Regions from separate parts of the Homo sapiens genome. Here regions 2, 3, 4 and 5 are each reported to be linked to region 1. The links are microRNA targets in miRTarBase. Many come from high-throughput screens and were not tested one by one. Region 1 holds a microRNA gene; each other region holds the end of a gene's coding sequence.
The links. Region 1 holds the annotated microRNA hsa-miR-513c-5p (UUCUCAAGGAGGUGUCGUUUAU, at 2,065-2,086, opposite strand). A microRNA usually pairs through its seed, bases 2 to 8, with sites in the 3' UTR of a target mRNA and lowers its output. Matches are read on the target gene's strand: a 7mer-m8 pairs with bases 2 to 8, a 7mer-A1 pairs with bases 2 to 7 and ends in A, and an 8mer does both.

Region 1 (4,146 bases):
TAGTTGTTTACAACAACACAAATTTATTATATTAGAGTCTAAAGGTCAAAAATCTAAATTAGGTTTCTCTTGGCTAAAATGAAGGCATTGGCAGGGCTTTGTTCCTTCTGTTGGCTCTAGAGGAGAATCTACTTGATTGTCTTTAGAAGATTCTAGTTACTTTCTCCATTCTTTGGCTCATGGCCTTTACCTCTACCTCTAGTCAATACTATAGTATTTTGCAATGTTTCTCATTCTAACCACCTTTCTCCAACGTATAAGGGCCCTTGTGATAATGTTGGGCTCACCTAGATAATCTAGGATAATCCCAATCTCAAAATATTTAATAACATCTACAAATTTTCTTCTACAATAAAATATGATGCTTACGAGTTCAGGGGTTACATTGTGAACATTGTTTGGGCGGGGGCTGTTACTCTGCCTACCACAGAGATCTTGTAATTTTTTCTTAGAGTTTCAAATAAATATTTTATGTTCATATTTTATTTTTCAATTAGCTTGATTTAATCATTGCATAATGTACACATATATCAAAACGTCATGTTGTACACCTTAAATATGATTTTTATGTCAGTTAAACCTTAATAAATTGGAAGAAAAAAGGCTGAGTAATACAAAACAGTATTTCACTGAAAAAAAACACAAATACCAGTAAATATACTATTCTTTTGAGAAATCATAACAGAGGTATGATAACAACTAAATTCTCTTTTATTTCATTTTAAGATATCACTTAAAGTTATATAAGTAAACATGCATCACTATAATACAGTTTTAGAAATTATATACTAAAAACAGTTATCACTTTGGAAAATTCTATGTACATACAGTATTGCAAAGTGACAAAATTTTTTTACTGTTCAGAATGTTGCCCCCACCCCAAAAAGATTGTATGTATTCTATTATTACAATGTTTTTCATTATGGAAAAGATACTTCAACTGTTTTTTTTACTTTCAGACATTAATGGTCTTATACATATTCATACATTCTGAATCTAAAAAAACATAAACCAAAATCCTGCCTGTAACCATATAGTAATTGTTTTTTATAGTTTTTCCCTTTCGGTGTTTATGCTGTAGCCTCTGTTTCAGTTGGAATCAAAATTGTATTAATCACTTACTATTTATAACATTTTTTACACATTTCCACAATATAAATAGCTTATTTATAACCTACTTCCCAAACATGTATACTAGATTAATGCTGCAGATGGCCTTACATAGTCTGGTGCTTGTCTTTCTCTTGCATGTTCTCTCTCTCTCTCTCTCCTCTCTCTCTCTCTCTCTCTCTCTCTGTGTGTGTGTGTGTGTGTGTGTGTGTGTGTGTGTGTGTGTGTTTATTTCCCTCTATTTCTCTCCATTAGGTTAAGAGTTAAGCGTCACCAAAAGAAAATGGGGAGAGAAGCCTAGGAGATATCTCTTGAGTATCAATTCTGTCATACCCTTCCATTCTTCAAATATACTCTTAAAAAATGGGGAAAAAAGATAATTAAAAAGGGTGAAATATTCTTGGGTGGACTATGCTTAACCCTTCATAAATTGGTGACTGAAGGCTTTGAAAGGTATTTTAACAGTCAATGAGAAAATGTTTTAGTCTTTGACAGAAAATGGACACTGTGGATCAGCAATGAAGGGACCTGAGAGGCAGGAGAGCCTTTTGGGAGCACTAAAGGACAATCCTTGCAAATGATGACTAGTTGATCAGTGAAAAGAGTTTAGAGAATTGAGGAATCTGGAGTAAAATGTCTCAGCTGACGAAGAATGGCTGTGGCCTCTATACAACGTATTTCTTATTTGAGCCAAGCCTCATTTGGCAAAAGTAGATAAATTCTTAAGGAACCAAAGTGCATGCGTTTTCTCAGGAGTCCACAGTTCTTATGTGTAGTCGTCTAGAAGGCACAAAAAGTTCCTTGAAGTAGCCCAGCACTGAGGAGTGGGTGCACAGGATGCAAAACAGGCATCACCATGCTCGCAGCTACAGCCCCATCCCTAGGGACACCACATATGCAGTGCATGCTGTACATTACTCTTCTCAGAAAGGTGAAATTTATATTTTAGTTCACATAAACGACACCTCCTTGAGAAAGGCACTGTACGCTGAATGGCTGAATGTGGCATCCCAGACCAAATGTTCCCTATTCATGCCGTTTTTATTCAAGTCCCTATAGGTGTATGCCTTCGCATGGCCACCAAGATTTATGCCAAGTAACAATGCAACTTCTAGCCCCTAGCACTCCCCTTTTCACCCTGCCCTGAGTGAGATATTAACATGCAGATTTTTGTTTTGTTTTGAGACGGAATCTGGCCCAGACTGGCATGCATTGGCGTGATCTTGGCTCACTGCAACCTCCGCCTCCCGGGTTCAGGTGATTCTGCCTCAGCCTCCTGAGTAGCTGGGATTAAAGCTGTGCACCACCATGAACAGCTAATTAACACGCCGATTTTTAGGCTGAGCAATGATAGAGCTTTTCACTTCTCCTCTTTTTCAGAGGTGAGTTATCCTTGTCTGAATTATCCCATTGGTTTTCCTGTAATTTTGCTTGTCTCATTAAAAATCCTCAAAGTCTTTGCTATTGTGAATAATGCCGCAATAAACATACGTGTGCATGTGTCTTTATAGCAGCATGATTTATAGTCATTTGGGTTATATACCCAGTAATGGGATGGCTGGGTCAAATGGTATTTCTAGTTCTAGATCCCTGAGGAATCGCCACACTGACTTCCACAATGGTTGAAACCAACCCAAATGTCCAACAATGATAGACTGGATTAAGAAAATGTGGCACATATACACCATGGAATACTATGCAGCCATAAAAAATGATGAGTTCATGTCCTTTGTAGGGACATGGATGAAATTGGAAATCATTCTCAGTAAACTATCGCAAGAACAAAAAACCAAACACTGCATATTCTCACTCATAGGTGGGAATTGAACAATGAGATCACATGGACACAGGAAGGGGAATATCACACTCTGGGGACCGTGGTGGGGTGGGGGGAGGGGGGAGGGATAGCATTGGGAGATATACCTAATGCTAGATGACGAGTTAGTGGGTGCAGCGCACCAGCATGGCACATGTATACATATGTAACTAACCTGCACAATGTGCACATGTACCCTAAAACTTAAAGTGTAATAAAAAAAAAAAAATCCTCAAAGTCAGGCTAGGCTCGGTGGCTCACTCCTGTAATCCCAGCAATTTGGGAGGCCAAGGTGGGCAGATCATCTGAGGTTAGGAGTTCGAGACCATCCTGGACAACGTGGGAAAACTCCCATCTCTACTACAAATACAAAAGATTAGCCCGGCGTAGTGGTGGGCGCCGGTAATCCCAGCTACTCTGGAGGCTGAGGCAGAAGAATCACTTGAACCCAAGAGGCAAAGGTTGTAGTGAGCCAAGGTTGCACCTTTGCACTCCAGCCTGGGCAACAAGAGTGAAAATCTGTCTCAAAAAAATCTTCAGACTCAGCCGGGCATGGTGGCTCATGCCTGAATTCCCAGCTCTTAGGGTGGCCCAGGTGGGGAGATCACTTGAAGCCAGAAGTTTGAGACAATCCTGACCAACATGGTCAAACAAACATGGTAAAACACCATCTCTACTAGAAATACAAAAGTAGCCAGGTGTAGTGGCTTGCACCTGTAATCACAGCTACTCTAAGCTGAGGCAGGAGAATCACTTGAACCAGGAAGGCAGAGGTTGCAGTGAGCAGAGATGGTGCCAATGTACTCTAGCCTGGGTTACAGAGCGAGACCCTGTCTCAAAAAAACAAAAACAAAAAACCCTTAAAATTACAGTTAAGTACAAAGGACCAACCACTCACTAAAGCTTTCTGTTGTCCTAAAACTCCAGCTGTGCTGCACAGACCTAAATTCCAACAGAAAAACCACAGAATACAACCACCTGGATGCAGAGAAGTGCAGAAGAGTCAGAGAAAACTAGGTTAGAGAGAGCAGAAATTTAATTTCTTCTTCAGGCTATGCAGGGGGAAGAATCCATAGAAATTAATACGAGAGAGAGACGAGACAGATAATGGGCTGGAAGACAGGAAATGCTATTCTATTTCTCTTAGCTCCATGGTTCTTTATCGTTCATTTATTGGGGTGCTCTCTCTGTGTGTGTGTGTGTGTGGGCGGGGTGGTGTT
Region 2 (4,146 bases), not on the chromosome of region 1:
TTTCTAGTTAGATAGCAACTATATTTCCCAGACAAGCAAGAAAATATATGGGGCATTTTTTATAAATTTAAAAGTAGCTAGCACAATCCAACCACGCAACTTTTTTTGAAATAGCTTGCAATGCTATGATTCCAAAGTGATCAAGGTACTTGAAGAGCAAAAATGGCTTGAATAGAATGGAAATGTAGGCAAGTGGACAGATAGCATCTAGATTGAATTTGTTACAGGTGGTATATTAGCAAAGAAATAGAAAAATGAAATGGAAGAAATATACCAATTCCCATTATTTCATGTAAAAAGAATGGCTAATTTAACTACAGATGTTAGCACATGAAGACATTGTTTTAAAGTTTTTTTTCTTATAGTATCTTTGTCTGGGTAATACTGGTCAAATAAAATGAGTTGGGAAGTATTTCCTCCTCTTCTGTTTCCTGGAAGAGATTGTTTAGAATTGATATTATTTCTCCCTTAAGTGTTTGGTAAAATTCATCACGGAAGTTATCTGGGCCTGTAGTTTTCTTTACTGGAAGGTTTTTAACTTAACCACAAACTCAATTTCCTTAATAAATATGGTTCTGTTTAGGTTATCTGTTTCTACAGTGAGCTTTCTAGTTTGTATCCTATAGGGAATCTGTTTCATCTAAGTTGTTAAATATACAATCCTTGAGTTGGTCATGGTGTTTTCTAGTTAGCCTTTTAATAACTATAGTGTCTGTAGTGTATTCCCTTTCATTTCTGACACTGAATTTGTATCTTCTGTTTTTCTAGGCAGTCAGCTAGAAGCTTATCTTATTGCTCTAAAAGCATTTTTAATGCACTCAAGATAGTTATGCTAGAAACTTTAACTTCTTATTCAACACTGAATATGAGTGACTAATTTTTAATTAAGGATCTATTTTGCTTTTTATATCACAGTAATGACTTCTATGTGTTAGTAGTAGTACTTCGTTCTGTGTAATACTGGAATACTAGGAGTTCATTCTAACTTAATGAAAATCAAAGTTGGCTTAGATGGAATATGAATTTAACTTCTGAGGGCCGAAGACTTAAATTGTGCTCTTTTTAAATTCTGCAGAACTATATATCTTCATACAGATCTTCGTTGTAGCTTTGTTTGGCCCAGGTGCTTAGGTGTTTGCAGGTCTGAGAAACCTCTAACCTAGTGTTCCTCTAAATTAGAGTCCTTGGATCTGTATCAAAACCACCTAGTGTACTGTTTAAAAATGGCCATTCCTAGGCCTTATTACAGGACCTACTGTATCAGAATTGAACACGTGGCCCTGAATCTGCATCTTTAATGAATTATCCAGGTGATTCTTACAATGAAGTTATAGAACTACTGTTCTAATGTCACAAAGGAGAAAGAGAAAAGTTGGATTTTAAACTTCAAGATACAAAATAATTAGTCTCTTAGTCTCTTTTTCTTTTTTTTTTTTTTTTTGAAATGGAGTCTTGCTCTGTCACCCAGGCTGGAGTGCAGTGGCGCAATCTTGGCTCACTGCAACCTCTGCCTCTCAGGTTCGAGCAATTCTCATGCTTCAGCCTCCCAAGTAGCTGGGACTACGGGTGCCCGCCACCAAGCCAGGCTAATTTTTGTATTTTCAGTAGAGGTGGGTTTCACCATGTTGGCCAGGCTGGTCTCAAACTCCTGACCTCAGGTGATCCCCCCTGCCTTGGCCTCCCAAAGTGCTGGGATTACAGGCATGAGCCACAGCGCCCGGCCAATTAGTCTTTTGATAAGGGTTCTATAAGGCCTAATCATCTGCATTATTACTCATTTAATTGTATATTACTTCCTGGCCAGGCACAGTGGCTCACACCTCTAATCCCAGCACTTTGAGGGGCCAAGATGGGCAGATCACTTGAGGTCAGGAGTTCGAGACCAGCCTGGCCGATACGGTGGAACTCTCTCCATTAAAAACAAAAATTAGCGGCCAGGCACGGTGGCTCACGCCTGTAATCCCAGCATTTGGGAGGCCAAGGCAGGCGGATCACGAGGTCAAGAGATTGAGACAATCCTGGCAAACATGGTGAAACCCCGTCTCTACTAAAAATACAAAAATTAGCTGGGCATGGTGACACGTGCCTGTAATCCCAGCTACTCAGGAGGCTGAGGCAGGAGAATCACTTGAACCCGGGAGGCAGAGGTTGCAGTGAGCCGCGATTGCGCCACTGCACTCCAGCCTGGCGACAGAGAGAGACTCCATCTCAAGAAAAAAAAAAAAAAAATTAGCTGGGCGTGGTGGTGGGCGCCCGTAATCCCAGCTACTTGGGAGCTTAAGGCTCGAGAATCACTTGAATCCAGGAGGTGGAGGTTGCAGTGAGCTGACATTGCAACACCACTCTAGCCTGGCAAAAGAGTAAGACTCCATCTCAAAAAAACCCCACAAAATTTATATTACTTCCTTTTTCAGTTTTCCCTCGTAAAACTTGTGAAGTCATTACATGTCAGCACCAATTTCATTATTAATAAACAAAAAATATACTCTAGTTGGAATTAAACTCTCATCATCAATGTAGTTAGACCCATGCAATTAATACCTAATGCCCCTTTTCTCCACTAACTAATATGGCATCTAATTTATAATAAAATATTTTAAGTCTCCTGTTATATTTAAATTGCATCAAATTTAAATTATGTTAATTATAAGACTGGCATGCCAAGCCAAATTATCACAGAAGATTACATGAACAAGCAATGTTAGTGATAGATGCTTTTTGTTATCCATCAAATAATTACTAAGTTTTCTTTTTAAAAAAAATCAGTGTTTATGGGCACACAATTAAATACCATTTAGAAAATCCTTAACTTAGGACCAGGTCACTGGCTTAGTTAAAGTATATTTATATTTGATAGTTTCCAAGGTAAGGTTACCATTGGGGAAATTGTGATAATTAAGTCAAACAGTTGTACCACTGACCTAACCAGTACATTAAGGATTTCTAAATGTATCTTATTGTGTATTTAGCATAAGTGGCCATGCTAATATTATCAATACCAAACTGCAGACAAGATTAGTTAAGAACTATGCAGAAAACCTGAGCATCCTACCTTTACTTTCTATACATTCGCATTACCAATTTTTTCTTTTCAAAACATCCCTTGCATCAAGTGCTACTTTCTAACAGCTCTTAAGATTCTCTGTTCACCAGAACAAGCAACATTAAAGATAACATTGGTTCCCATGTTATATATTCATTACTAATAGCACTTATCAAAGCTAAACCTAGATAATATTCCTTCTTTCCTGACATACTGCTCAGTGGCAAGTACACTTCTTCTCAACCAGCATAGGAAACCTTTCCTTTGGGTCATTTCCCTTCTCAAAAAACTTTGCTTAAGGGAAATTGGAGCTAAAGAGCTTACCAACAAATAGCCCTACTAGAGTTCAATAAATATGCTTTGCTATTAAGTCTAATATACAAATATGATAGAAGTTTGAAAATGGAACCTTATCCCAGTGCTATATTGGCACGTAACATGGCTAGTGATCATTTCAAAAGGAGTCATGTTATGTTTTGAGTTTGTTTGTGATAAACCTATTGTCTAAACAGATTTATTCTTTAAGAATATACACAAGAGGTTTTCCTCCATTATTTTCACACATCAGATATGGTGTTTGGTTTTTTGAAGGAGGGAGGGGGTACTATCTACAACAAATACTTCATTCATAGCCATAAACCATTTGTATCTTGGGCTTGAGCCCCTGGTTAAATCAGGAATGCTCTTCAGCGCTGCTGCTGAATGATCTGCTCCGGATGTGATTTCTCAGTTGCTCTATAAGTTCAGGATTTTGTTGCTGTATCTGCTGAGCAAACTGCTGTCCCCTGTAGTAAAGAGGCAATGTGGTTTGAATAGGGAATTGCCAGTCACATTTACCCACGCAAAAAGAAATGCAGAAAATGTAGGAGCTACCTAAAGGGGGCTTTTTTCTATAAAAACAAGTTTCAGAGCCATGACTTTAGAATCTACAAGTTTACCAATGCCTCCATATAGCATTATTACAATGCAGTGTTCTTTATAAGAAACAAAACACCCATGCTAAAAAAAATAAGTACCTCAACTGGGTGAAATCTACTTCTCTAGTGCTAATGACAAAGAAGCAAAGGGTAAGACGTATATGTTTTTATTGTATGTGCTCAAAT
Region 3 (4,000 bases), not on the chromosome of region 1:
TGGTGAAAGTAGGAGTGACAGGGTAGTTAGCCCCACGGGTGTTAAATTGGAGGGGGGTCAATTTGGTGGGGAAGAAGCCTCTGACTTTTAGAAGGGTGACTTTTCCCTAGAAAATAACAGAACCCCTGGGGATCAAATCCTGAAGTCTCTCTGGTTTATGGTTCTACAAAACAAAGGGGACTTTGAGGGTGTGCCCAGAAAAGAAGAGGGAAAAAGAGAGGAAAAAAGAGCACCTTTCCTATTTTCTCTTCCAGCTCCTGAATCTATTTCCTCCCGACAGTTGAGGGATTTGTATTCTTGAGCTGATTTTATTTGAGGAGGGCTTGCCAGAGTTCTACTTAAACACCTAACACCTCTAGGCAAGAGAAGAAGCTCTTCCCTTCCCCCACTCCTGGTTCAGGAATTAGGTTTTGAATTGGGGGAATTGCCCTCTCTGTCTGCTCCCTAGTCTGACTTCAGGATCCTACTTCGAGCCAAGGAGAAAGATTAGCTTGAGACCAACAGGCTGAAGGTGGAGGCAAAAGCAGCGCTGTGCTCCCCATCCCAGAGAAGCCTGATGAAGCCAAAGATAACCGGAGGGACCTCTTTTTATGGGCTTCAAAGATCGGAAAGCCAGAGATCACCCCAGGGCAAGGTAGCCCACAGCAGCCGCCTACCCGGTGCTTTTTCTCAGCTCAGATGTATCCAGATAAAAGTGCCCAGCGGTGCACCCCCACACACCTCCGACAAATGAATGTCATAAAGTTTCTTTCCGGAGGATGGGGGGATAGTTGTCTGAAGATATCCAGCAGTGAAGTGGCCCCCACCAATGGCCCCTTCTTTCAGCAATATACACCCCTCCTTCCTGGTCCCTAAATTTCCGCTGGCACTGAGGGAGCATGGATCCCCCACACAAACCCTTTTCCCCACAAAGTCAGACACTCCTGTTGGTAAAAATCAGGCACCCCCGACCGATGAGGCCTTAAGAAACTGAGAGCACTCATTTCAGGCACCCAGTCCCTTAGAACTGGGTGCATAAAACAGGCTAAATTTCCCCTACATCACCCCACAGCCCCAGGTGGAAACAAGTTTTCTTCCCCCAGTCCCAGGCCCCAGAATTGCAAGGGGTAAAAGCGAAAGCTGAAAGCGACTTACTGCGGGAATGCTGGCCTGGGCCGCCGCTGCCTTCTGGGCTGGTCCGGCTGCTCCAGGCTGGGAGAGTGCTCACCTACCTCTGCCCCCTTCCCCACCACAGCGAGCAGTTAAAGTGTCACTTAACATTCTGGAGAATGTGAAATATACTGCGCGGTGTCAACTCCCCAAAACCATAAAACTAACTTTATGGACCTCACGTGACTTTCTCGAGCCAGTGAGGGGTATCTGTCTGACTTCTCGGCGATTTTTACGATCTAACTTCGAGATAAAACCCCTATCCATTTGACATCTAAATGTCATAGCGACTTTTGGGATAGTTTGCTATCGACAAAGGGAGACAAAGTCAAGGGGTGAAGGGAAAGGAGGGCCAAGTAGAGCCTCCACGACCCTCGGCTTCCTCCTCACCAGCTCCCCCTCCCTCCAAGTCCAGTAAGAAGTTGGGCCAAGCTGGAAGGGATTGACCGGGTAAGTGTCCAGACTTGACTCTTGTGCTCAGGGTGGAGGCTGACTTGGATGGAGGTAGACTGGGCCCTAGCCCTGGGCCAGGCTGAAAGGGAACCAGGGGTCTTTCTGAAAGGACCCTAACTCCTAATCAAGAGGGAAGATCAGTTGGGCCCTTGGAGAGAAGGAGCCCTTGATAAGGGTAGGGAAGGCTGAGGGTGAGAGAAATCCTTTGAAATCCAGCTGAATTTTTTTTTTTTTTTTTTTTGCTTTAGTTGGTGGCAGAGCTGAATTGGGACTTGGAGTAGGAGACAGGGGGCTGGGCAGGCCTCTACCACTCCCAAAAGGCCAGGAGCCTCCTGCTGAGGACTTAGGCCCAAATTACTTTCCCAGAAGAGTTTTCCAGAGGCTTCCTTGGCCAGCTAGTGGAAGACCAGGATGAAGTCTAGCTCAGCCTTTCCTCTGCCCCAGCCCCACATGGGGTTTCTGGGCCTTGGAGTCCCCCAGGCATGAAGGTCTGTTCCCTGGCCCAAGCACTGTTGACCAAGCCAGTGACTTACATGGCTGAGAAGAGTTGTTGGGGAGCAGCCTACTTTTTCTTCCCTGCACCCCAGATCTATTGAGAATGGTGCAGGGTGTGCCCGGGATGGGAGAGGCAGACCCCTCGGAGAAAAGACAAGTGGAAGGGCAATGGAGTGGGGGAAACATTTATTTGACTTCCAGGAAAGCTACAAACAAATACCAAAAGCGAATCACTGAGACAGGCCCCGCAAAGACAGATTTCACACGTAGCACAGCATCCACTCGCTCACTACAAATGGTCTTGGAAGCAAGATGGGTAAGGGAGAGATGGGTCTGACCCAGACTATCCCCATATTTACAAGCTTTGGGCCCTCTAGCCAGACCCATGGATTCACAGAGAAATACACAAGACATTTTGCACTGAGGATCATTTTTGTTTCCGTATACTCCCAGACCAGGCCTTGTGGGGCCTACCCAGGCAGCAGGAACTTAAATCTCACTATCTTCTTTCTCTCTTCTCAATACCATCCCTTTGGTCCTCCCTAGCCCCTTCCCACCCTAGGACCAAGCCCCTAGGAGACTTGGGCCTAGGGAGTGAGGAGGGAGGAGGAGGAGAATGAAAAGGGACTCCATCTCCGAAGCCAGCTCAGCTTGACCCCACTGCGGCACTACCCCACCTCAACTGCTGCCCCTTACAGAAGTTTCCAGCTGAAACTCAAAATACAGCGATCATCTTTTTATAAATAAGTTAGAACACAGATGGGGAGGGGAGAGTTCACATTAAACATGCGAATTTCTTTTTTTTTTTTTCCTGGGGGAAAGACTGCAACCACAGACACAAACATTCAGAAACACTGGCGGATTTGGGACAAGCAGAAGGGAGTTGGGAGCATGGAAGGAAAATAATAATAATAATTATTATTAACAATAATAACAAGATAACCAGTCCAGGAGAGAGGGAGCCACAGGAAGACCTAAGACCAAACGAAATATCGTAACACAAGGCGAGGCAGGCTTGTGGGAACCGGTCCCCAGCGGGCGGCGGCAGAGCGGGGAGGATTGGAGGGGCCAGGGCTGGGGGTGGCACGGGCTCTTGGGCCGCTGGGCTCCTCTGGGCGGGCTCAGGGCTGGAAGGCGCTGCCAGCTGTAGCCAGGCTCATACTTTTCAATTTGTTGTCCTTCTTCCACTTCATGCGCCGGTTCTGGAACCAGATCTTGATCTGGCGCTCGGACAGGCAGAGTGCGTGGGCGATCTCGATGCGCCGTCGCCGGGTCAGGTAGCGGTTGAAGTGGAACTCCTTTTCCAGCTCCAGGGTCTGGTAGCGGGTATACGCGGTCCGGGCCCTTTTCCCGTCCGGCCCGGTCATATCTGGAGCAGATAGAGGAAAGCCGCAAGGCAACATTATTCCGGTTAAGGGAGGGGGCACTGGGTGGGAGGGGGCGGGGGAGCAGGACCCAGGCGTCCCGGCACCCAGCTCACCACAGCTCCAATCCTCTCTACTCCAGATGCCCACATTCAAGCTCGATTTCTGCACCCCTTTCTACTGCATCCCCCACTTCTGCAGGCAGCCAGTGCGCCCGGCTTTGTCTCTTGCTCGCTCCTAGTGCCTCACCCTTGGCTGGGCTCAGGCGGCCGCTCGCCCCGGGAGGGAGGAGAGCGGTTGCACTTTTGCCCCGGAAAGCTCCTTTTACTGTTCACCCCTTCTTTGCTAGCGACAGTCTCAAAATTTCAGGGGTAAGCAGGACCCTTCCCCACATTATATGAACCCCATCCTTTATCCTAAAGCTGGTTCAGCTGCGCTAATAAAAACCTAAGCCGAAGCTGGAAACAAATTATTAAAAATACCCCCCTCTTAACAGAGAGACCCTTTTTGGCTCTGTCTACGAAGCTATGAGGCCCCTC
Region 4 (4,146 bases), not on the chromosome of region 1:
AGCTAGGTGTCTTCTACAACCTAATCTCAGAAGTGACATCCTATCACTTCTGCCAAATCCTATGATGACACAGACTAACCCTAGTACAATGAGAAAGAGGACTGCAGGGCTATGAATACCAAGAGGCAGAGATCAGTGGTGCCCTCTTGGAGGCTGGCTACTACAGTGGGCAAGAGTGGAAGCAGGAAGACTTGTTAGAAGGCTATTGCAGAAGGTGTAGCAGTTTGGTAATGTGGATCAGGTATCCTACCGTAGGGTTTTTATTTATTAGGTTTTGCATTTCTTCCCAGGCTGCCAGCGGGACCAGGATGGCTATTACTGGATCACTGGCAGGATTGATGACATGCTCAATGTATCTGGTGAGGGCCAGGGGCCACCTTCCCATCTTATTAACTCTGCTCCTCTGACAACACCCAGCCGAAGCCTTCCGCAAGAGCCCAGGAGTGTCCTTTGGCCAGACCATGTACTAAGTGTAGCATTCAGTTCTGGGCCCAGGTTTTAGAGGAGTAATGAACACTGGAATGTGCCTAGAGTAGGGGAACTTGGATGGTGGGGTGACTGAAAGCATGTCATCTGAGGAGTGAATGAAGGGTCTTCTCCATTTGGCCAGACCAGGACTGCCCCATGGGTACAGATGGAGCATGGGCTGGGGCAGAGCCTGGGATCTCTCTCATGGCACTTCCTTTCCCTTGACAAGGACACCTGCTGAGTACAGCAGAGGTGGAGTCAGCACTTGTGGAACATGAGGCTGTTGCAGAGGCAGCTGTGGTGGGCCACCCTCATCCTGTGAAGGGTGAATGCCTCTACTGCTTTGTCACCTTGTGTGATGGCCACACCTTCAGCCCCAAGCTCACCGAGGAGCTCAAGAAGCAGAGTAAGGAGCCTCCCTGGGCAGGGACTATAGGGTCTGTCTTGGAGGCCCAGTTATCACTGCAAGTTGTTGGGGAGGGGCTAGAGCAAGCTGCTCCCCAAACCACAAACAGATTCCAGGGGGCCCCATGGGCTGATTGCCCTCTTCCTGTTCAGTCTCCACTAGTCTCCCACTAGGATAATAATAATAGCCAACATTTCTAGAATACTTTGTGCCACCGCTAGGCTAAGTGCTTTAAATGAATTACCCCACTTAATCCCTAGAGTCACCTCCATGAAACAGATCTTATTGTTACCTTCATGCTAAAGATGATGAAACTGAGACTCATGGAAGTTAAATCACTTGCCCAAGGCCACACTGCTAGAAAGGTGGCATTTAAACTCTAGCAGGCTCATTCTACAGCCTGAGTTCCATAAGATAAAATGAGAGAGTAAAGAGACAAGTGTGTTGAGAGCAAGAGAAGCAGTGAACCTGAGGCTGTCTCTGTGGGCAGGGACTTGAGGAGGAAACAGGTGGGGAACAAAGCCATCTCTACTTTGATTTTTGAAAAGTCTGGCTAAGGGTGCTGAAGAAATGCTTGATGATTTGTTGGTTACAGTTAGAGAAAAGATTGGCCCCATTGCCACACCAGACTACATCCAGAATGCACCTGGCTTGCCTAAAACCCGCTCAGGTATGTTCAGAGGCCTCCATGGATTGGGATGGGCTGAGGCCTGGTGGTGGTGGGGTGTGCGTGGATGAAAGCCTTTGGCAGGGCTAGGGTGGGTCAGTGCTTTCACCAAGTAACTAGAGGTCTGTGGTTCCCCAGGGAAAATCATGAGGCGAGTGCTTCGGAAGATTGCTCAGAATGACCATGACCTCGGGGACATGTCTACTGTGGCTGACCCATCTGTCATCAGTCACCTCTTCAGCCACCGCTGCCTGACCATCCAGTGAACATGATCCTGACCTTTACCTAGGATTCCTCCTGCTCCAAACTTTGCCCATCCTCTTTGCCCCCTCAGGAGTGCTGAGGGCCAGTGTTGACCCACACTACCCTCCCTTGACCAGCTGTCTGGGACCGGAAACCAGCTTTGTCTCCAGGTAGAGACAACATCCTGTGACTGCCAGGCAGAAAGGACAGGGCCCAGGTCAGCCTCAGTCTGCTGTGCCTCCAGACTGCAGAGCTCTCAGAACCCAGAACAGAGACGAAAAGGCTACCTCTCCTACCCAAGTTAAGTGTTCAAAGGGGATGTGAGGGCCTCCACTGAAGCAGGGAGGCAGCTGTGTAATCCTATGTCAGCTCTCTTAGGAAGCCCCAGTACTTATATTGGGCATGCACTTGCCCTTAAAAACAATGATTTGTGAGTCCAGGAACAATTTACTATTTTTAAAATATTTTGCTGCTTCTGTTCTGGGTCTGAATTCCCTTTTGTGCCAGATGCCAGTACTGTCTGCCCATTGGCTCCAGGGGCTGTATGGGCAGATTCAGTCTCCAGAGGGTATTCAGATCATCTGCTTCTTTGAAGGAGTAAATGTGTTTTGTTCCTAGGGCCAGAGGAGCTTGTCTTCCTTGTCCTCTGTTCCCACCCTCCCCTGAACAGAACCCAGCCCATAAGAGACATTCTCAGATGAAACTCTGTTTTCTTGCCCCAGTCAGGCTCAAGCCCTGTGGTTGTAGGAATAAAGCCTGTGATCTCAAGAAGTGGTGACTTGTTTTCTTAGGTATCTGTGCCCTGAGGCTGTATATTCATTAGTGGCTCTGATTTGTGTGGCAGATGGGAAGGGAGGGGTATTTCCTAGGACTATCCCCAATATCTTCCTTCTAGAACTTTTGGTTTGGGCAGAGCGAAGGAGGCTTCACTGACAGGGCCTTTGACAAGCCCCTGAGCTAAGCAGGAAAGTGACTGAAGCCAGTTCACAACTGTTATGTATGTCCCATCTTGGTTGCCTTCCCTCCTGGGCTCCTGCCAGGGACTCTCATTCCTCCCTGTGATCCAGTAAGAGCATTAGTGGGTGGCTAAGGATTGAAACTTCAGGGTTCCACCTGTAGAGACTGGTCTAGGGGGACCCTGATTACAGACCAGTCACTTCCCTGCTCTAATACATCTTAAGTGGGCTAACGTAGATTACAGCTCCCGCCTCCCCTCTATGCACGAAGTAAGGAATCATCACTGAATCAGCAATGCAGTTTTATTTAAGGCAGAATTAGGGAAAGGCTATGCCCCTCCACTCCCCCTCCTCCTACCACTCAGTCCTATCCCAAGTCAGGCACTGGAACCTGCTGAAAAGGCTGATGAGGGGCTGACAGGAGTGGGGCAGGGTTCATGGACCTTTACCTCAGAGCAGCTTACCCTGAGCTATACCCACATCTCAAGGATTTGGGGGCGTCTAGATCTCATCTAAGGGAGACACAACTTTTCTGGTCCTCAGATGGAAAGCTGGGGGAAGGTACCAGTATTTACCCTTCCATAAAAACTTTGGAGGTCTTTAGGAGGATACCCCTCAGGAGGGCTAGGAGAGGAATGACAAATACAGAGGATAGAAGGTCCCGTGGCCTGGTTGTGCCCTCACACAGGGTATGGGTTGTCCAGGACTGCCACTCCCGCTGCCACACCACCATCTGCATGCTCGATGGCTTTGGTTCGAAGTAGATGCCCCACGTGCTTGTTCATCACGAGTGTCTTTTCCTGCCTATAGAAATGGAGGCAGGGGACACACATCACCTGGACTCAGCCCCAAACCCAGGACCTTCCCTGGACCCAGCTGAGCAGTACCTGGGTAACTGTCTATACCAAGAAAGTGCTAGGATTTTAGAGTCTCTATGCCTCTCTGGAGTCTCCTTCTAGTCCTAGGTTGTCAAACCATGTGTTCTGAGTCCTCTTGGTGCTATTTGGAGTTTCCTTCACGGTTGCAAAGGACTTCTCATCAGGGCTTCATCTGATACCCTGGTAAGGTGGGCAGGTCTTGGGTCCTTGGCCTCATTTAATAGATAAAGAAACAGGTAATAAAGCTAGTGATTGGCAGAGCTGGCACCGAAGCCCAGGATTCCTGACTCTTTCCAGTGTTCCCCTCTAGGCTGGCTCACTTGGCTGGCACTCTTGCAAGCAGGTAGTGGAAAGAGCTTCTCCTGATTGGCTCACCTGACATAGACCCCAAAGATGCCCAGCTCTGAAATGCACTGGACCACTCGGGCAGGGCTGCCAGGCCGTAGCAGGCAATTCTCAAAAGGCTCAGGTTCGATCTTCTCCATGAGGATGTAGGAGGCCCTCTCCTCACTGTCCTTCAGCTGTTTC
Region 5 (4,146 bases), not on the chromosome of region 1:
GGAGAGTCCGAGGATGATCCTGGGGTCAGAGAGCATGGAGTTGGGGGTGGCCTTGGGGAGAAGGAGCCGAAGGAATGAGTCTCTCCTGCCCCCACTGGCACCCAGGCCTGGTCAACGTGGTGTGGTGGCTGGCCTGGTGCCTGTGGAACCAGCGGCGGCTGCCTCACGTGCGCAAGTGCGTGGTGGTGGTCTTGCTGCTGCAGGGGCTGTCCCTGCTCGAGCTGCTTGACTTCCCACCGCTCTTCTGGGTCCTGGATGCCCATGCCATCTGGCACATCAGCACCATCCCTGTCCACGTCCTCTTTTTCAGGTGGGTGCTGCCCCCTGCCTGGTGCTCACCTTCTTTGGACCCTTCCTTGCCCACTCCTTAGGGGAGATTGGGGGCTCTGTGTGCCCATCCGCCCCCTCCCACCTTGCCTGCATGCACCCCACCCTTGTCTCCATGCGAGCTGTCAGAGCTGTGTGCCTCAATGGGCTACTCCTTTGGCCCACAGCTTTCTGGAAGATGACAGCCTGTACCTGCTGAAGGAATCAGAGGACAAGTTCAAGCTGGACTGAAGACCTTGGAGCGAGTCTGCCCCAGTGGGGATCCTGCCCCCGCCCTGCTGGCCTCCCTTCTCCCCTCAACCCTTGAGATGATTTTCTCTTTTCAACTTCTTGAACTTGGACATGAAGGATGTGGGCCCAGAATCATGTGGCCAGCCCACCCCCTGTTGGCCCTCACCAGCCTTGGAGTCTGTTCTAGGGAAGGCCTCCCAGCATCTGGGACTCGAGAGTGGGCAGCCCCTCTACCTCCTGGAGCTGAACTGGGGTGGAACTGAGTGTGCTCTTAGCTCTACCGGGAGGACAGCTGCCTGTTTCCTCCCCATCAGCCTCCTCCCCACATCCCCAGCTGCCTGGCTGGGTCCTGAAGCCCTCTGTCTACCTGGGAGACCAGGGACCACAGGCCTTAGGGATACAGGGGGTCCCCTTCTGTTACCACCCCCCACCCTCCTCCAGGACACCACTAGGTGGTGCTGGATGCTTGTTCTTTGGCCAGCCAAGGTTCACGGCGATTCTCCCCATGGGATCTTGAGGGACCAAGCTGCTGGGATTGGGAAGGAGTTTCACCCTGACCATTGCCCTAGCCAGGTTCCCAGGAGGCCTCACCATACTCCCTTTCAGGGCCAGGGCTCCAGCAAGCCCAGGGCAAGGATCCTGTGCTGCTGTCTGGTTGAGAGCCTGCCACCGTGTGTCGGGAGTGTGGGCCAGGCTGAGTGCATAGGTGACAGGGCCGTGAGCATGGGCCTGGGTGTGTGTGAGCTCAGGCCTAGGTGCGCAGTGTGGAGACGGGTGTTGTCGGGGAAGAGGTGTGGCTTCAAAGTGTGTGTGTGCAGGGGGTGGGTGTGTTAGCGTGGGTTAGGGGAACGTGTGTGCGCGTGCTGGTGGGCATGTGAGATGAGTGACTGCCGGTGAATGTGTCCACAGTTGAGAGGTTGGAGCAGGATGAGGGAATCCTGTCACCATCAATAATCACTTGTGGAGCGCCAGCTCTGCCCAAGGCGCCACCTGGGCGGACAGCCAGGAGCTCTCCATGGCCAGGCTGCCTGTGTGCATGTTCCCTGTCTGGTGCCCCTTTGCCCGCCTCCTGCAAACCTCACAGGGTCCCCACACAACAGTGCCCTCCAGAAGCAGCCCCTCGGAGGCAGAGGAAGGAAAATGGGGATGGCTGGGGCTCTCTCCATCCTCCTTTTCTCCTTGCCTTCGCATGGCTGGCCTTCCCCTCCAAAACCTCCATTCCCCTGCTGCCAGCCCCTTTGCCATAGCCTGATTTTGGGGAGGAGGAAGGGGCGATTTGAGGGAGAAGGGGAGAAAGCTTATGGCTGGGTCTGGTTTCTTCCCTTCCCAGAGGGTCTTACTGTTCCAGGGTGGCCCCAGGGCAGGCAGGGGCCACACTATGCCTGCGCCCTGGTAAAGGTGACCCCTGCCATTTACCAGCAGCCCTGGCATGTTCCTGCCCCACAGGAATAGAATGGAGGGAGCTCCAGAAACTTTCCATCCCAAAGGCAGTCTCCGTGGTTGAAGCAGACTGGATTTTTGCTCTGCCCCTGACCCCTTGTCCCTCTTTGAGGGAGGGGAGCTATGCTAGGACTCCAACCTCAGGGACTCGGGTGGCCTGCGCTAGCTTCTTTTGATACTGAAAACTTTTAAGGTGGGAGGGTGGCAAGGGATGTGCTTAATAAATCAATTCCAAGCCTCACCTGCCCTTGTTCAGCTCATTTGTGTGAATAGGGTGGGCTGGAGGGCAGGAGAAGACAGTTGTGGCGGCAGGGGCAGGTCCCAGAGCTGGCTGGAGGCAGTAAACAGAGGTGAGGTCTCTGCCTGGGCACGTGGCATGGGGAATGGCAGGCCCCAGAGGCAGAGCTGGGCAGAACTCAAGTCCAGTTGTGAGAGGGAGCTGGAGCCAGTTCTTTCCCTTTCACTTCCCTCGGCCATTGTGCTTCAATCATAACACCCCCACCTCCCCACCACCTTGCAGATTCTACTTCCATCTCCTCATGATCCCCACTCTCCCTCGTTCTGGTCTGAAGCAGTCTGCACTGTTTGTGACTTCACCTCTCTGAGCTTCACCTGGAAACAGACTAGCAGGACCTGCTGCTGAATGCAGGAATGAATGATGCGATGGACACAATGGCATATCACAAGTGCCTGGTGCACTGCAGGTGCCCGGTGAGCTCCCCTGACCTTGGCCTTCCTTAGTTTGGGAAGAATGAGTGGTACAGAATGCTAGCCTCAAGGAAGCTTCTGGAAAAAAAGCCTAGGGTGAATGTCTCCCCTACCCGGACACTCAGATCTCTGGGCCCTTGCTGCTTCCCAGGAGAGCCACACACAGCACTGACCGCAGCGGCAGGGTATTATTTCTTTATTAGGTGCCACTTCAAAGAACAGGGAATCCAGGTGGGTGGGGGCCACAGGGCACCAGGTACAGCCCTCACAGCCCAACCTTCTGAGCCCAGGCGAAGAAGACGCCCTTGACATCATCTACGCCTGTCTGAAGGTGGGCAGGCATGATATAGGTGCGGAGGTCCCGGACCTTGTAGCCACTACGCACCAGGGCCTCCCTCACCTCCTCCTCAGACACTGGCACCACCGTCAGCCTGGCCTCCCCAGCCAGGTACCACGACTCCTCCAGGGCCCCGATGAGGAGGAGGTGCCCCCCAGGCCTCAGCAGCGTGGTGATGTGGTCCAGGGCCCGCTGAAAGCTGGCAAGATCTGGGCTCACAGCCTCCAAGCAGAAGGCAGAGACCAGGGCGTCAGCAGGCAGGGGAGCTGGGCTCCCAGCACCCAGGGGCTGGGGCTGGTGCACGTCGATGGGCAGGACCCGTTTCACCCTGGCTCGCAGCTGGCGCTCCTTATCCTGCCAGCATTCCCTGTGCAGGAGGCACAAGGCAGGGCTCAAGGCTGTTCTACGCTCAGGCCTCTGTTGCCCCAACCAGCCACTCTATGGGAAGCCTCCTCCCCAACCCTCACCCCCCAGTCCTTACCCCTTGCCCTCAATGAGGCAGGCATGTTGGCTGTACATGCTCCAGTTGAAGGCCCCCGGCTCCTCCTGCAGCCAGCGCCCCAGCTCCTGGCGGTTGACCTCCAGGAAATCTGTCATGGTGATGTCCTCAAAGTGGCTGCAGGCACTGAGCAGCTGGTACACGGTGGGGCCTGAACCAATGTCGATGAGGGTGCGTCCGGACACTTCACCTGGGCAGGGCAGAGGAAGAGGGTCCTGGTGCCAGCCAGCCCAGGCAGCCCCTGCCTCCTTACCCTTCCCTCCCCTGCATCTCCCTGCCTCTCTCTAGTTCTTCCTTCTCCTCTGCAAATGTGTCTCCATCTGGAAAAAGCATTGGCCCCAGAGTTAGACTGAACCCAGCTCCAACATGGGCTGCCCTTCGGAAGGGAACTTCACCGCTCTGAGACTCAGGTTTCACATCTAGAAGACTATACCTACTGGCCGGGCGCAGTGGCTCACACCTGTAATCCCAGCACTTTGGGAGGCCGGGGTGGGTGGATCCTAAGGTTGGGAGTTCGAGACCAGCCTGACCAACATGGAGAAGTCCCGTCTCTACTAAAAATACAAATAAATTAGCCAGGCATGGGGGCGCATGCCTGTAATCC

Region 2: the mRNA of SGTB is a reported target of hsa-miR-513c-5p. Seed matches in the 3' UTR shown: 7mer-A1 at 3,322-3,328, 7mer-A1 at 3,280-3,286 and 7mer-m8 at 2,207-2,213.
Region 3: miRTarBase lists HOXB5 as a target of hsa-miR-513c-5p. Seed matches in the 3' UTR shown: 7mer-A1 at 2,613-2,619.
Region 4: the mRNA of GSS is a reported target of hsa-miR-513c-5p. Seed matches in the 3' UTR shown: 7mer-m8 at 3,222-3,228.
Region 5: the mRNA of PGAP3 is a reported target of hsa-miR-513c-5p. Seed matches in the 3' UTR shown: 7mer-m8 at 630-636.

The regions. Positions count from the first base shown.
Region 1 is chrX:147,187,689-147,191,834 of GRCh38, forward strand. MIR513C (microRNA 513c) reads right to left here and starts at 2,099; the gene lies at 2,016-2,099. The region is part of intron 1 of LOC105373347 (periphilin-1); the gene reads left to right.
Region 2 is chr5:65,666,530-65,670,675 of GRCh38, forward strand. SGTB (small glutamine rich tetratricopeptide repeat co-chaperone beta) reads right to left here. Exons shown (of 11, transcript NM_019072.3): 11 at 1-3,828. The coding sequence ends at 3,717. Among named protein-coding and RNA genes, the nearest start is that of TRAPPC13, 44 kb to the left of the region's middle.
Region 3 is chr17:48,588,991-48,592,990 of GRCh38, forward strand. It overlaps HOXB5 (homeobox B5), which reads right to left. Exons shown (of 2, transcript NM_002147.4): 2 at 2,267-3,466. The coding sequence ends at 3,219. It overlaps HOXB3 (homeobox B3), which reads right to left and starts at 1,251. Exons shown (of 5, transcript NM_001384749.1): 1 at 1,135-1,251. HOXB-AS3 (HOXB cluster antisense RNA 3) reads left to right here and starts at 1,430. Exons shown (of 3, transcript NR_033201.2): 1 at 1,430-1,599.
Region 4 is chr20:34,925,408-34,929,553 of GRCh38, forward strand. GSS (glutathione synthetase) reads right to left here. Exons shown (of 13, transcript NM_000178.4): 12 at 3,994-4,146; 13 at 3,025-3,544. The coding sequence ends at 3,421. ACSS2 (acyl-CoA synthetase short chain family member 2) reads left to right here. Exons shown (of 18, transcript NM_018677.4): 15 at 291-359; 16 at 698-874; 17 at 1,470-1,544; 18 at 1,680-2,552. The coding sequence ends at 1,807. Among named protein-coding and RNA genes, the nearest start is that of GSS, 28 kb to the right of the region's middle.
Region 5 is chr17:39,669,215-39,673,360 of GRCh38, reverse strand. It overlaps PGAP3 (post-GPI attachment to proteins phospholipase 3), which reads left to right. Exons shown (of 8, transcript NM_033419.5): 7 at 106-310; 8 at 495-2,239. The coding sequence ends at 558. PNMT (phenylethanolamine N-methyltransferase) reads right to left here. Exons shown (of 3, transcript NM_002686.4): 2 at 3,525-3,732; 3 at 2,886-3,410. The coding sequence ends at 2,972. Among named protein-coding and RNA genes, the nearest start is that of PNMT, 2.8 kb to the right of the region's middle.